Homo sapiens: one gene and its partners. The protein of the gene in region 2 purifies or fractionates together with the protein of the main gene of each other region. This does not show direct contact. Each region holds a gene or a part of one and is shown on either strand. Other genes may lie near its edges.

Region 1 (3,500 bases), on a different chromosome or scaffold from region 2:
TAAAGACCTTTTCATAAAGGCTGACTTGCTCAGGATTAAGTCCAAGCCCTGAACCCTGGGTCTTGTGTGACTTGGCCTCACCAACCTGTCCCAAGCTGAGCTCCTGCCTGCAGCACCATGTGAAACCGACTTCTTACAATTCCTGTGATCTGTCACACTTGCTCACCTTTGCACACGCTGCTCTGTCTTCTGGCTAACCCCCTACCCCATATCTCTCATTCTTAGCTCACCTCCTCTGAAAAGCTCTCTCTGGCCTCCCCCTCTCCCTCTCAGCTAGCTAGGTGGCTCCTTTCTGGCCTCAGAGCCCCCTGTGCTGCCTCCTACCATGGCGCTTATCATGTTGTATTGTGCTTGCCTATTACTGACTGGTGTCTTCCTTGAGACCGGGACCTCTATGACGGCAGGAAGAGGTATGTCTCAGTCATCAGCCCAGGTCCTAGAGCAAAGTCTGTCACATAATTGGTAGATTTTGTGGAATCAGATAAGTTAAAAAGGAGGCAAAGAGAAAACAAAGAATGCTGGCAGACAAGTCAAGCCAGAAATAAAGCACTAAATACATACCATGAAGTCCCTGTTAAGGGTTTGCTATTAGTGCAGTGTTTGGCTTTCTAGCCGCACACGCAGAGGGGAAACATGATCAGTTATACAAATGACAATATCCATGAGATAAAAGCCAATAACTGCTCAGAGACCAGAAAGGAATTGCACCTGGGGAACCTCTTGGATTGGTCACAGTGCAATATACTGAACCATGTCCACAAACCATATCCTTTTAGGCTTGTCATAGCTGCTTGGGCTTGTGTCTTATTCTTCTAATTAGCGTTAGCGCTTTGAAGGTAAGTGGGGTCTGTATCTCTTTCTCATTTTGGTATCCCCCACTGAACCGGGCACAACACCTTAAACAGTGTACAATAAATATTACTGTGTACATAGATACTGTGAGGCACATGTAGGCAAATATCAATCAATCAATCTTAGTAATTGACTCCCTGAAAACCTGCTAAATAAAAAAGCAGATTTTCCTTTCTCAGCTTCCCCTACATGCCCATCGGGAGTTTTTTAAGTGTAGCCAAAGGGATCCCCTCAGAAGACAGACAAGGCAATGGCCCGCAGCCAATCAAGAAGGACAGGGAGTTGCCGTGGAGACCACCTGCTGGGAATGGAGCTCACCTGTTGATGCCTTCTACGGCTGACGTCACATTATCATCAATCTGCAGCACAGTCTTATAGTCAACATAGGCCATAGGGTACTTCTCCAGAGCCTCATAAGCAGATGCTCGCCGCAGCAGGGGCTTAATGCTGAAGGGAACCAAGGCCAGTGCTCTAGAATAGGAGGCAAAAATGTCAACTGGCTGGCTGCTGAGCCACCAGGGTTTCCCTACAGTTTCTTCCAGGCAGGGTTATCTGGAGCACTCAGCGTACAGGAAGTAATTTCTGGCCGAGAGACATGGCTAAAAACGCCAAACCTCAGAACAGGGATTTTTCAACGTAGACTGAAGTGAGGAGGAGAAAGAAGGCAGAGAAACATGAATTTTGTTAAATGTGTGTGCACATGCATCAATTTTCATAGTTTCAGTTCCCCCAAAATCAAGAACAAAAGCCTCATGGCTTTCATGCTACTATGTTTTTTTACAGTTGTGGTCTAGTGGGAATAACAAACAAGCTTTGGAGTCAGATGGGGTGGTGTCTGAATTCCACCTCTGCTGCTAACTATGTGACCCAGGTAAATCACTTTACTGCCCCAACCCTCAGCAACCAAGTTCTGGCCTGGGACACATGGTAACCGTACCCCACAGATTGGTTGTGAACACTCAAAGAGGGAAATCTGGCACAAGGCATGGCACAAATTAATTCAGCACAGGCTCTGTGAGTATGCTCACACCCCTCCTGCTCTCCTGGCTATCACCAGGGCAGGAATCTAAAGCAATGTCAGAGGACATCAGATCTGAGAACACATTTCAGGTAAATGTGAGAGTTTAATGATGATAAAAGAATATTAGACTGGCTTGAAGAAAAAGAGATATGAAACATTGTTCAGTGTCCTCTAAAACTGGTCATTCATGAATACCATTTTTTTCCTTTCTCCTTCTGAGACAATCTATTAACCTCTATTCCTCCTTCTTTCCTTCGCTCCCTTCCCCTCACATACTCCCATCCCAGAAAAGCACCTGGGCAAGCCAGTTACTGGTCTGCCACTCCACCTTATTCCCAGGTTTCAAATTGCACAAAGACTTTACGGCCTGCTTCTAACTGCCCATCCCACTCCTTTTTCGGCAGCAGAGCCAAGACTCCAAAGATGCAAGTCACGGGCCATAAGGACCAAATAAAGACTCCCATTCTCAGTGACCTGGTGAAACTCAGTGACACTTTCTTAATATCTGTCCCAGATGTAATTGATGGGATCCTTCCAAAGAAGAAACAAGCCAGATTAACCCAGCCTCCTCTTCTGAGACCCTCAGGCATCCCAAAATTACCCTTGGCCACTTACGAAGTGCAATCTTTGATGCAGTCTCTGCAGTTTCCATCCTTCAAGTGACATGCTGCTCGGTTGGAGTAGAGAACACTTTCTTCTTCTGGGTCTGAAGAACCTGCCCAGATAGAGTGGGGAAGATGATCAGTTTGGAAAATGGGTGCCTCAGGGCATTAGGATACATTTCAAACTCAGAGCTCTTTGGGCCTTGTGTTAAGGCAGTAGAGATAACTATAACCTGTTCAGGCTTGTTGGTCTGCTGGGCTGGCGTGTTTGTCATTCTTATGTGACAGAAGGACACTGCGCTTTTTGCCATTCAAAGGGAACCAAGTATTTCCTCATTCACTCATTCCAGCACTGAACTTGATAACAGACAAAAGATAAACAAGAAATAGCTAGCTTCTGCCTCAAAGAAATCCATGCTGTAACTACTTGGGTTTGGGTGGATAAATGGATGGATAGGTGTGTATTTTATTACAAAAAGCATTTAAATCCAAGAAAGAAAGAAAAAAAAAAAAAGAAAAGAAAGGGAGGGAGGGAGGGAACAAGATGATAAACGTATGATAAATGGATTGACCAAAAGTTGTAGGGGCACAAAACACCCATGAAAGACATGAGACTAGTTTTACCTGGTCAAGCCAGGGAGGACTTTGTCAGGGAAATGATAATTGAGCTGGGTGTGATGGGAGTACAGAGAACTTAATCAGGAAAAAGTCTTAAGCTACCCCATGGGGAGAATTATTAGACATTCTTCTAAGGCAGTCCTTACCCTCAGGAATCGCAGAGGCTCAAGTCCTTCACTGTGGCCACCATGATCTTTATTTACGTATTTTTTTTTGAGACAGAGTCCTGCTCTGTTGCCCAGCCTGGAGTGCAGTGGAGCGATCTCCGCTCACTGCAACTCCACCTCCTGGGTTCAAGCAATTCTCCTGCCTCAGCCTCAGCCTCCTGAGTAGCTGGGATTACAGGCACTCGCCACCACGCCTGGTAGAGACAGGGTTTCACTATGTTGGCCAAGCTGGTCTTGAAC
Region 2 (4,908 bases):
CAACTCCTGGACTCCACCATTCCTCTGGCCTCAGCCTCCAAAAGTGCTGAGATTACAAGCATGTGCCACCATGCCCAGCTTATCTCCTTTGAGACAGAGTCTCTCGCTCTGTCGCCCAGGCTGGAGTGCTGTGGTGCAATCTCGGCTCGCTGCAACCTCCGCCTCCTGGGTTCAAGTGATTCTTGTGCCTCAGCCTTCCAAGTAGCTGGGATTTACCTGCCACCATGCCCAACTAATTTTTATATTTTTAGTAGAGACAGGGTTTTACCATGTTGGCCAGGCTGGTCTCGAACTCCTGACCTCAGGTGATCCGCCTGCCTTGGCCTCCCAAAGTGCTGGGATTGCAGGCATGAGCCACCGTGGCTGGCCCCACCCCCTTTTTTTAAGTGAGGAGAAAATGAATCATTTATTTTTGATTGACTCACATTGTTGCTGTGTATTCTCAGTAGGACATTTGTCTTCAGTTTTGTTCTTTCTTGTGTACTGATGTGGAATTAAATATATAGGAGTTCATTTTGCACCTACAGGAAAAGTTTACTGCTAAACTCTTGAGTCAGCTCTACAAAATTTCCATGAATATCCAGACTTCTTTGCATGAGTCTAAGGAATCTAAACCTAACATTGCTATATTGAATTTATTCAGTTAGCCAGGCACAGTGGCTCATGCCCATAATCCCAGCACTTTGGGAGGCCTAGCCAGGAGAATATCTTGAGGCCAGGAGTTCAAGACCAGCCTGAGCAACATAATAAGCCTCTCATCTTTATGGAGAAAAAAAAGAAGAGAAAAAAAGAAAAGAAAAAAATCTATTCAGTTATGACTGACTGGACAACATTAAAAAGTCAACACTTTGCTGGTTCCGTGATTTCTTGGTGGTATTGACTTTGACCAAATTTCCTGCTAATTTAGATAAAGGTGTAGATATAACTTAAATAGTATTTGGATTTCTTTGACACCTTGAAACAAAATGACAACCATTTTCAAATATGCTTAACTAATTTTTAAAAGACTTTGTTTATAACAGACATCATGAGTAAATGGCTTACATAACTAACTCTCAATTTGCCCAAGACTGCGGGCATTCATGGATGTAGGACTTTTTAATATTGAACTGGCCACTCTGGCCTGATTAATTATCTGAAATAAAACTTCCTGTGAATTTTAGGAGCTATTTCCAGTCTACTGAGTATTGCTTTAAAGAGTACTGTCCCTCACTTGCTCTTTTACCATAATCTGTTGCTCTGGTAATATGAATTGTCTTTAAAGAGAATCATTTAAAAATACCATTGAGAGATTAATGAATTAAGAATGGTTGGTATTTCTTCCCTTATGGGAAGAAAGAAAATATTTGACACTTATGGTTCAATTCTTTTTTTTACAGGTATGTTGAGTCGATGGGATGATAGCCAGAGATTTTTGTCTGACCATCCATACCTTGTATGTGAAGAAACTGCTAAATATCTTATTTTATGGTGTTTTCACCTGGAAGCTGAGAAGGTATTATTATGTGAACCTTGAGTTTCTGGGAACCTTAGTGGAAATCTGATTTCATACTTTATTGATGTTTTGTTTTGTTTTCTACATTAAGTCCTTTAAAAGAAAGCAGGAAGGTCATTAGATGGAATTACCATTTTTTGCTTCCAGATCTACTTGAGTTTAATGTGGGATTTTGTTGTTGTTGTTGTTTCAGTTAGCATACAGAAACTTTTCCACTATGCTTTCTCTGCCACTCCACCTCCATCTCTCTTGTTTTCATATTACTATAATCCTTTTCAAACTAATTTGAAAGTCGTATTTTAAAAATCCAGACGGTAATCATGGTATTAAATCAAGTTCAGAGCATGGTCTTCCTTTAGTTATTCTGGTCCACATACAAATAATAAAAAAAAAACTAAGATATACTCTTTATATGTTTGTAAAGTATTTGACTTATAACTTAAGAGAGTAAAATCAAAAGTATTTTAAAAATTCAAAATTTGAATCAGTATGCCAATTAAATATATTTATATATTTGTTTCTTATATCATTTAAATCTTTTTCAGAAAGGGGCTTTAATGGAACAAATAGCACATCAAGCTGTTGTAATGCAGTTTATTATGGAAATGGCCAAAAACTGTAATGTGGATCCAAGAGGGTGTTTTCGTTTATTTTTCCAGAAAGCCAAAGTAAGTAGTTATTTGATATTGATAAATGGGAAGATTTGGTCCCAGCTGAGACCTCTTTGTTCTGTTCATATCAATAGAAGGCATCCAAGCAGGATGCCACAGGCTAAATTCTGTAGATTTTCTTGTGAAAAGAAAATTTATATTGCTAATTTCTTGCTAATTTAAACTTAAAAGAGCTATATAAGAGGCTGTACTACAGCATGTATATGAAATTGAGACCCATTTAAATGAATGTGTGTATTCAGGAAACTTACGTTCCATCATTAATTCATTCAGTAAATACTGAGTGCCTAATGCAAAGCACAGCTGTTTCAGATGCTCAGGATGCATTATTGAGCAAAATAGATACAGGATTCTTCATGTGTAGAACTCAGCAGTTTAATGAGAAATCAGACTTTTATAAAGAAAAAATAGGAAGCAACCTAAAAATTCAGCAATTAAGGGAATAGTTAAAAATACCCATGGTACATAGAATATCATGCACCCTTTAAAATTATATTTATGGAACTTTTGTAATGAGCTGAAGAAATGCTTACGCTATGAATTCACAGGAAGCAGTACATACTAGATGATGTTGGCTATGTTGAAGAAAAATAGATGTCTAGAAAGATTAAGTACCTTTCACACTCACAAGATTTGCAGTAATTTAAAAGCTGCCCAAGAAGTAGGGCAATAAGAATTTGCGTTCACTGCTAGTGGAAGTATAAATTGGAACAACCACTTTAAAAAATTTCCTAGTAAAGTTGAACAAGTGCCTGCCTTAACACCCAGAAATTCTCCTAGGTGTATGCATCCTAGAGAGTAGATTCTCAAGGTGGGGTCCAGGAACCCGGAGGGGCTTCAAGACCTTTTCAGGAGGTTCTCTGTCGAAACTATTTTCATAATAATACCAAGATGTTATTTTTAATTTTCATTTTCATTCCTCAGTAGTGTACAATAGAGATTAATGCGGAAGTACAAATATGAGAATCTAGCCATCTTCTGTAAAGTCAGACATTAGATTTAGAAAAATTAAAGGAAAAAGCAGCTCTCTTCTCACTAAATTTTTTTGTTTTGGAAAACTTTTTTTTTAAATAAAAATGTTATTAATGGTAGTGTAATGAGTTTGTCATTGTTATTTTTAGTTAATGTTTTAAAAATTCCTCAGTTTTCATTTCTAACAGTAAATACTGACAGATACAACTCACATAAACAGAAGCTCTTTAGGGTCCTCAATAATTTTGAAGACTGTAAAGAGAACTGCTGCGCTAGAGAAACTCTTACACATATGTACTAGATTGCCGTAATGTTCATAGTAGATTGTAATAGCTAAAAGCCTGGAAACAATAAATAAATTGTGGTGTAGGTTGAGTATTCCTAATCCAAAATCCAAAACGCTCCAAAATCCAAAACTGTTTGAGCATCGACATGACACTCAAGGGAAATACTCACAGATTTTGTGTTTTCAATTTAGAGATCTTCACTGGTAAGTATAATGCAAATATTCCCAGATCTGAAAAAACTGACAATCTGAAAAACTTCTGGTGCCAAGCATTTCAGATATTCAACCTGTATATTCATTCTGTAAAATACTAGCCAACATCAGCATGGATGGAAAAACAAGAGAGTGAATCAAACAAACCACAGAGTGATGTATCTGTTTAGATAGATGCTAAATGGATATATCTAGTATCAATGTTCGTATTTTGTATTTTTTTATAAAGTATTTTTTTAGTGACAGGCAGAACTAAATAATATATTGTTGAAGGATACATATATAAGCAGTAAAACTAAAAAGCAAAGGAATAATTAAGAAGACAAAAGTTACAATAATGATAACCTCAGGGAGGGAGGGGGAATGCTCTTGGGAACTGGTTTCTAGGATCCTAGTAATGATCCATATCCTAATTTCTATGGGTAAATAGTGGGGGTTTTGCTGAATAAACTGTGCGCATATCTTTTACATGCTCTTCTGCACATAGGATATATTTGAACATATACAATTAGAAGTTAAAAGGAAGTATACCAAAAGTTTAACTTTGGTTATACTTGTGTGGTGAAATTATAAATAATTTCCGTTTTCTTTTTCATGTACTACAATGAACATTTCCTATTATAAACATAAAATTATATTTTTATATTAAAAAAAAACTCTCAATGTGGCAGTAGTCCTAACTTAAATACCCTAAACTCTTCTGAAATGCAACCAAAATATGAAATTTTCCTGAAACAGTTGAACTTTAATAGCAAATGCTTGACTTGATATTTTAGCTAGGCTGCTTCTGGTGACTAGTCTAAACTTTTGTTTGTTTTTAGAGATAAGGTCCTGCTCTGTCACTCAGGCTAGAGTGCAGTGGTGCAATCATTGCTCACTGCAGCCTTGAACTTCTGGGCTCAAGCAATCCTCCTGCCTCAGATTCCCAGGTAGCTGGGACTATAGGCACATGCCACCATCCCCAGCTAATTTTTTGTAGAGACACGGTCTCACTGTGTTGCCCAGGCTGGTCTCGAACTTCTGGGCTCAAGCTGTCCTCCTGCCTTAACCTTCCAAAATACTGGGATTACAGACATGAGCCACCACACCCGGTCTCTTCTAAATTTTTACTTGACACTTAAGAGTAGTAAAAAACATACTTTCCTTTTTATCTTACATTAATGGATGTGTTTAAACTGGTGTTTAATAAAATAATGGAATGTGGCCAAATCATATATATTGTTTGACATTTACTTTACCAAAGTAAAACGGAAAGGCACTGGTCTTCAATC
Region 3 (3,500 bases), on a different chromosome or scaffold from region 2:
TTTTACTGGGTAGATACTGCTGAAGGAAATACAGGGTGCAGATAGTTCAGCTGGTCAATAATCCATGATTCAGGTTGGATAGGGAAAGAAGGGGGGTTAGGAGGGAATGCCTAGGTAGGTCAAAATGTAGGAATCACAGGACTGGAGAAGTCAGAAGTAGAAAAGCAGATTGCTAGGAGAGACAGGATGACAGATTTTGGTCAGAAAATGGGATATTGGAGTTTAAAGTATCAAATACAGAATAGTTCCAGATGTTCAGAGATCCAGCATGGGATTAGGTACTGAAATGGATTAGAACTAAAAGTCACTAGAATTTAGAAATTGAGAACCATGAGAGTGGATGCAATGACTTGTTGCTTGATTGAAAAATAAATTAATAATAATAAAGGACCATGAGACTAGCCTGTTATAGGGGTTATCTCCATGAACATTGAATTTTCCCAGGATCATAGCAGGAATTGGGTAGAGAAAAAGATTATGAGAAGGTGCCAGAGTCTTCAGTGAATGTCAGGAAATTACCAGGAAGTCAGCATATGACAGAGAAAAGGACAGTATGTTATCTGCATCAAAGGAAAATGTGCTTTTGTTGAAAAGTACAGAAAAAGCCAATACTACAATACTGTGCTAAGCCCCTACCTGTACTCCTCTACCCAACAGCTGCATTCCAGGCCCTGTGGTATAAAAGGTGTGAGAATGAGCATCTCCCACCAGAAATCAGACAGGTTTAGTTAAAGCAGTGAGGCAGAACAAGCATCCTATGAAGAGACTGAGGATGTAGGTGAGTGGTTCTAAAATCTCAGTAGAAGGAACATTGCAAGTAGAAAGAGCCAGCAGTAAGGATGCACGTAGCAGTCTAGAAGTAGAGGTGAGACCAGCTTGGAGATGAAATGAGGAGATGTCTTCTGTTCTGTGCTGGAGAAGTACTGGTAAGTGTGGTGTGGTTGGGATTCACAGGCCTCAGCCATCCTCACTTTGGTACAAGTTATTTTGGTACAGAACTACTAGAATGTCCCAAAGGCTGTAGTACAGGAACATTTCTGAAAGGACAAAAGCTGCCATGAATATTGAGAAATTGTATGGTGCCAGGTACAGCCTGGATCTGAGCAAGACTGCTGGATGGTGTGTGGATAGATAGTGAAGGCCCAGATTTGGGAACAGATTGGATCTCAGATATCCAGAGCAGCACTGTAGAATCTAGTTGCATATAATAATGTTTTAAAAAGGGTATCTTAGGCTGGGCACGGTAGCTCCCGCTTGTAGGCCCAGGCCTTTGGGAGGCCAAGGTGGGCAGATCACTTAAGCCCAGGAGTTCAAGACCAGCCTGGGCTGCATGGCGAAACCCCATCTCTATAAAAAATAAAAAAAATAAAAAAAAAATAGCGGGCATGGTGGCATGTACCAGTAGTCCTAGCTACTCAGGAGACTGAGGAGGGTGGATTGCTTGAGCCTGGGGAAGTCAAGGCTGCAGTAAGCCATGATCATGCCACTACACTCCAGCCTGAGTGACAGAGTGAGACCTTGTCGCCAAAAAAAAAAAAAAAAAAAACAGGGCTACCTTACTCTGGAAAAAACACATGTAGCATTGGCTGAATAAAGAAATGGAGCTTCATGATTAAGGACATTTGGAATCAGAGTGCAATAAACTTTTTGTCTTGTAGCTATAACCAGAATGCATGGCTTTGAAAATCACTGCAGCAGTATATATTTAGCATCTGGTCGCTGAATAGCAGTCTCTTGTGACTGAGGATGATTTTCCATGGTTCCTTTTTGTATTCTGAAATGACTAATGGAACCATCTGGGATCAGCAGATTTTAAGTCCCTGAAGGCTGGAAAAGACTTATACTTGGCTTTATAATTCCCCACAAAGTCAGGCCCAGCACCTTGCACTTAAGTGTTTATTGAATAAAAGAGTGACTTGTGTGGAAGTTATTCATTCTGCTTTAGCTGTTTTTGTCATTCATTCCCTTTTAACTCTTGTAGTTTGTTGTGACTTTAACTTTCTTACGCTTTTTTTGTGGAGCTGCTCGATAAATATTTGACATAGGTATTATGTCATTTTATGGCTCATCCAGTGTCACACAAGTAGTAAATGGTAGAGCCAAAACTCAAAATCAATGTCAGTGGATTCTGAAGGTAGGTGCTTTCTGGTACGCTAGAATTAGTACCAGTATAAGAGGCATAGGAGTGATCTTGTTTCCTGAGCGGAAAGCTTTATTTAGCCCTGTGGTCCTACCCACTCATGCAAGGATGCTTCTCTTTCTCGTCTCACATGAGAACCCTGATGACTGAGAGATCAACAGTGTTTCCTCAGGCCCAGCTGCCCTGCCCAGCGTTCCTGCATCCCACTCTCTACAGGCACAATGTTAGTGGAGCATTGTTCCTAGAGTATTCTTCATCTTAGTTGCTTTACCCTTGCTTCATATATTTGTATGTCTCACGTTTCAGATTGCTCTCAAATATCCCTGAAGCACTTTTTTAAAAAAAATTGTGGTGAAATATACATAAAATTCATCATTTTAAACTTTTTAAACTATGATTCTGAATTAATTTAGAATACTTCTGATGTATAAAATGCTATGTAAAATACGATTTTGCTGTTGGCTTCTGTATTAGTTTTTCATTGCTGTATAACAAATTCCTGCAAACTTAGCAGTTTAAAACAGCATACCTTTGTTATCTCACAGTTTCTATGGATCAGGAGTCCAGCCACAGCTTAATTGGGTCCTCTGCTCAGGGTCTCATTGGGCTACAGGCCAGTTGTTGACTGGGTCTGTAGTCTTATCAGAAGCTTAACTGGGGAAAGATCCACTTTCAGGTTTCCTCCGCTGGCAGAATTCATTTCCTCTAAGCTGTAGGACTGAGGTCCCCATTTTCTTGCTGGCTGTCAGCCAGGGACCACATTTAGCTTCTAGGAGCTGCCTGTAGTTGGTCCCTTGCCATGTAGTTCTGTCCATGAGCCTTCTCATAACATGGCAGCTTAGTTCTTTAAAGCCAGCAAGGGAGAGAGTCAGAGAGCAAAGTTTCTGACTCTCAGGGAAGGCCTGGACCCCCTTTAAAAATATACCTGATTAAGTTAGGGCCACCCAACTCAAAATCTACTGATTTGGGACCTTAATTACATCTGCAAAAACCCCTTCACTTTTGTCATATAATCTAATCATGGGAGTGACATCTTGGCGCATTCTGTTGGTTGAAAGCAAGTCTCATAGGTCCCACTCACGCTCAAAGGGAGTGATTACACCTCCCCTTGGTGAGAATGTGGAGTTTGAATACACGGGGTGGGGGGCATTTTAGAGTCTGTGTGCTATGGTTTCCTTTTTTATCCATTTCATAGGGTTTTTTATCAGCAATTGGACACCCTTTCCCCAAAATGATTTTTAATCATGGAAGGAAAAAGAGAACTTGGAATTACCTTGAATTTGAAGAAGAAGAAAATAAACAGTTAGCAGACTCAATGGCTTCTCTGGCATATCTAGTATTTGTACAGGGCATCCATATT
Region 4 (3,934 bases), on a different chromosome or scaffold from region 2:
CCTGGACACACCTCTTAACACTTGCAGTACCCAGCATGGCGGGCCTGTGCACACCTCCATGCCTCTCTCCACATATGAGCTCCCACTGCCTAAAACGCTGAGTCCTCTATCCATCTGCAGAGACCTTCCTCAGCTCTGATCTCAGCTCTGCATCACCTTGAATCCCACCCCTCTGAGCCTTCACTGAGCAGACCTGTGACCCAATGCCAGTTTAGATTGGTGTGCTTCCTGTCTGCTTTTCATTCCAGACCAGGCTAGGAGCTCCCCAAGGCTGTAGCCCCGGTGCAGGGACCTGCAGCCATTTGCTGGCCGGTAGAGAGGCTGCAGGAAGCCACAGCGGCTGCCTAACCAGGCCTGCAGCACCTGGACCGAAGACCCTTTTCCATCTGAACTGTGGGAGTTAGGGGTGGCTAAGCTCAGAGACAGAGGTCTGATCAGTCTCTCCTTTCCTCGAAACTCTCCAAAAGGTCCCATACCACTGAGGAAATAGCCAAATCCTCATAGTCACAGCCCTTTTGTCCTCCCACCTCATCATCTCCTTGCCCCCTTCCTCACTCTGCTTCAGCCCCACTGGCCTCCTTGCTGTTCCCCAAGCACAGAAGACTCTCCCGCATCAGGCTTCCGGACTGTTCCCTGTTCCTTCCATGGGAATGCCTTTCCCAGACCCCTCCTAGTCACTCCCAGGCCTCTGGCAGAATGTCTACCCATCCTGTTTAAAACTTTTCCCCAATAGCTCTTGCTACCCCTGACAAACTCTTACATCTCAACTATTGTCGTTTCCTCCCCACTGCCTTAGCAACTCCTAGAGGGCAGAGATTTCATCTGCTCTGCCCACCGCTATATAGCCAGCCACTAGAACAGGCCGGAAGCGCAGAAAGAGCTAAGTAAGTATGTGTTGACTGACTGACGAACAAATGAATGAAGTGAGATGGGGGCTTTGGGGATTCGGGTTCACGCACCACCCCAAAAGCATTCGAAGGCCGGGCGAGGCCAGGCACTGCCGAGGAGGGCGGGCCGGGGGAGGAGCGTATTGGCCACGCCCGGCCACGCCCCCAGGCCGGCGGAACCCAAGGCGCGGGGACCTGCGCTGCCGGGAGGATTGAGGGAAGGGAACCCGCGCCGCCGGAAGGAGCCGCTCGCTTCACGGCGCTGGGACCCGGGCTGGAAGGCAGGGCATCAGCTATGGAACAACCTGGGCAGGATCCCACCTCAGACGACGTCATGGACTCGTTCCTGGAAAAGTTCCAGAGCCAGCCTTACCGTGGCGGCTTTCATGAGGACCAGTGGGAGAAGGTGGGCGGTCCTGGGGTCTCCCCACGTGTGTAGGGGCGTCGTCCGGACTCGTGGGGCACCCGGGCTCTGGGGCACCTCCTTCAATCCCAGATCCCTGGCGCTGCCAGCCGATCGCTGGTTTCTAGTTGAGTATTGAAAATCGGCCTCGAGGTTTTGAGTCGCTTCTTAAGCTGAGAACCTAGGTTTTGGAGTCAGGCCTGTGACTCCACCACTTAACTGGCTCTGATATGAGTCAGTTACTTAACTTCTCAGAGTCCGTTTCCTCATCTGTAAAACTGCGCGAACTATATCACCAATAGCAAAGATGAAATGAGACAGTTGGTAAAGTGCCAAGAACATAAGGGCGCTCAATTAATGGTAATTCCTGCCGCTCTTGTAGAATGTGAGAACTAAAACAATCATTAGAGACCATTACACCACACTCCCATTTTACAGAAGGGAAGCGGAGGCCTGAATGGATACAGCTAGCTGTGATGATTTGCAAATCATGATGAGTAAAAAAACTTTGGTAATGAGTCATGGAATTGGATCTGCTCAGTAGAAAAGCTTATTCATGTAGTTCATTCTTAACCATTTACAGGAATTTGAAAAGGTCCCCCTATTTATGTCGAGAGCGCCATCAGAAATTGATCCCAGGGAGAATCCTGACTTGGCTTGTCTCCAGTCAATTATTTTTGATGAGGAGCGTTCTCCAGAAGGTATCTTAACATGACTAATATTTGTTTTGTGTTTCCATTGAACTGAAATTAAGTGTGGGTTAGAAGCGTTCTGATTGATAACAAGAAGTAGTTAGCCTGAGCTAACTTGTCATTATTCATTCCAATATACTTCTTTTTGTACCTACTAAGTGGTAAGGACTGGGGATACAGGGGTGAATAAGACACAGTTCCACCCTCCAAGGTCAGGCTCAGTGAGAAGCCTTTTGTCTTAAAGAATCAAGACAAACTTATGCTATAAGTGTCAACATGTAGGTGTATACTACAGCTGTAGTGGGTCCTGTTGGAACACTTTAAGGAGCAGGAGTGGATTCACAATAGATAGGAAATTTGAGCTGAATCTTTGTAATTTTGTAGGCTTTTACTAGGGTGAGGAGGGGAATTTGCACTCCACAGAATAAACAACATAAGCAAAAGCAGAAGTATAATCAATCCCCCTGCCCCTCACTGATTTCTTCAGTGATTAAAAAAAATTCTTTTCTTCAACAGCTAGGATGAGTGTACTTTTTTCCTTTATACTTCTTTTTTTTGGAAAGCACTTAGTAATCTACCTTGTAAGATATTTGGAATTAGCATTACATTTGTGCGACTTTGTCCATGTTGATACCCACTTTTATCATAACATCGAGTTTCCTTTCCCTATTGGTTTCTTCGCTTTGGTGTGTCATATAGTACATTATTACATGATTTAGAATCTATTTTTAATGAGCCTTTTAAAAAGTAAGCAATAGTGATTATTTTTCCTCTTCTTTGCAGAACAGGCCAAGACCTATAAAGATGAGGGCAATGATTACTTTAAAGAAAAAGACTACAAGAAAGCTGTAATTTCATACACTGAAGGCTTAAAGAAGAAATGTGCAGATCCTGATTTGAATGCTGTCCTTTATACCAACCGGGCAGCAGCACAGTACTATCTGGGTAATTTATAAGTGCTTTCTGAAGAATAAACTTATGATACAAGCCATTATGATGGTTAGTGGAGGTTTGAGAACATCAGAGGATGAGGGGCTGTTATCCCAGAAACCCAGACTAAGGATAGTTTACTCTGATTGAACTCTGGTCTTCCAAGTTGACATGATGAAAAGAGAAACAGGATGGATTGTGTAATTCTTACTGTCTCAACCCAAAAAGTGACTTGGTCACTCAAGTAAGGTGTTTGATGTATGAGGCAGTATGTTCTGAGATTTTTGAGCCCAAGGGCTTCTACTCTCTCAAAAAATGTGTTTTTCTGGCCTTTTATCCTCTTTTCAAGGATGCTAGCAGGAGTAAGGCAGTAGAGATCTTTAGGTGAGATAAGCTATTTTAATCTAAGGGAGAATATCTCAAAGCGTTCTGTGGGACCTTTGAGTTAAAAATATTTTTTGGTTGGGTGCAGTGGCTCATACCTGTAATCCAAGCACTTTGGGAGGCTGAGACAGGAGGATCGCCTGAGGCCAGGAGTTCAAGACCAACCTGGGCAATATAGTGAGACCCTGTCTCTCCAAAAATTTAGCTGGGCATGGTGGTGCCTGCCTGTAGTCCTAGCTACTTGGGAGGCTGAGGCACGAGGATCGCTCAAGGCTACAGGGAGCCATAATCACACCACTGCACTCCAGCCTGGGTGACAAAGTGAGACCCTGTTTCTAAAAAGTTGCTTGGATGAGGAATTTTAACTCATTTATTTATTCATATTTTTTACTTTATTACATTTTTTTGTAGAGACAGGGTTTTGCCATGTTGCCCGGGCTGGTCTCGAAATTGGGCTCAAGTGATCCATCCGCCTCAGCCTCCCAAAGTATTGGAATTACAGGTGTGAGCCACCGCACCCAGGAGATTGAGGAAGTTTGGAAAATGCTGCTTCTTAGAGATTTACAGTACATGTTAACATGTTAAAGACACTGAGATAGCCTGCAAGAAAATAAATTTACCCTGGGTTTCTCAAATTT

What was found.
Region 1: the proteins of CDC37L1 (region 2) and TOMM34 purify together in Homo sapiens (affinity purification with mass spectrometry; one study listed by BioGRID and IntAct). This does not show direct contact.
Region 3: the proteins of CDC37L1 (region 2) and GLMN purify together in Homo sapiens (affinity purification with mass spectrometry; one study listed by BioGRID and IntAct). This does not show direct contact.
Region 4: the proteins of CDC37L1 (region 2) and TTC4 purify together in Homo sapiens (affinity purification with mass spectrometry; one study listed by BioGRID and IntAct). This does not show direct contact.

Annotation. Positions count from the first base shown.
Region 1 is NC_000020.11:44,953,898-44,957,397, forward strand, and holds part of TOMM34 (mitochondrial import receptor subunit TOM34), read right to left. Parts: intron 2,589-3,500; coding exon 2,489-2,588; intron 1,724-2,488; exon of another isoform or gene 1,324-1,723; coding exon 1,171-1,323; intron 1-1,170. UniProt on the Homo sapiens protein: Plays a role in the import of cytosolically synthesized preproteins into mitochondria. Binds the mature portion of precursor proteins. Interacts with cellular components, and possesses weak ATPase activity.
Region 2 is NC_000009.12:4,695,717-4,700,624, forward strand, and holds part of CDC37L1 (hsp90 co-chaperone Cdc37-like 1), read left to right. Parts: exon of another isoform or gene 1-1,379; coding exon 1,380-1,495; intron 1,496-2,040; coding exon 2,041-2,163; intron 2,164-4,908. UniProt on the Homo sapiens protein: Co-chaperone that binds to numerous proteins and promotes their interaction with Hsp70 and Hsp90.
Region 3 is NC_000001.11:92,271,488-92,274,987, reverse strand, and holds part of GLMN (glomulin), read left to right. Parts: intron 1-3,335; coding exon 3,336-3,500.
Region 4 is NC_000001.11:54,714,727-54,718,660, forward strand, and holds the start of TTC4 (tetratricopeptide repeat protein 4), read left to right. Parts: upstream 1-1,134; 5' UTR 1,135-1,182; coding exon 1,183-1,293; intron 1,294-1,873; coding exon 1,874-1,991; intron 1,992-2,765; coding exon 2,766-2,927; intron 2,928-3,934.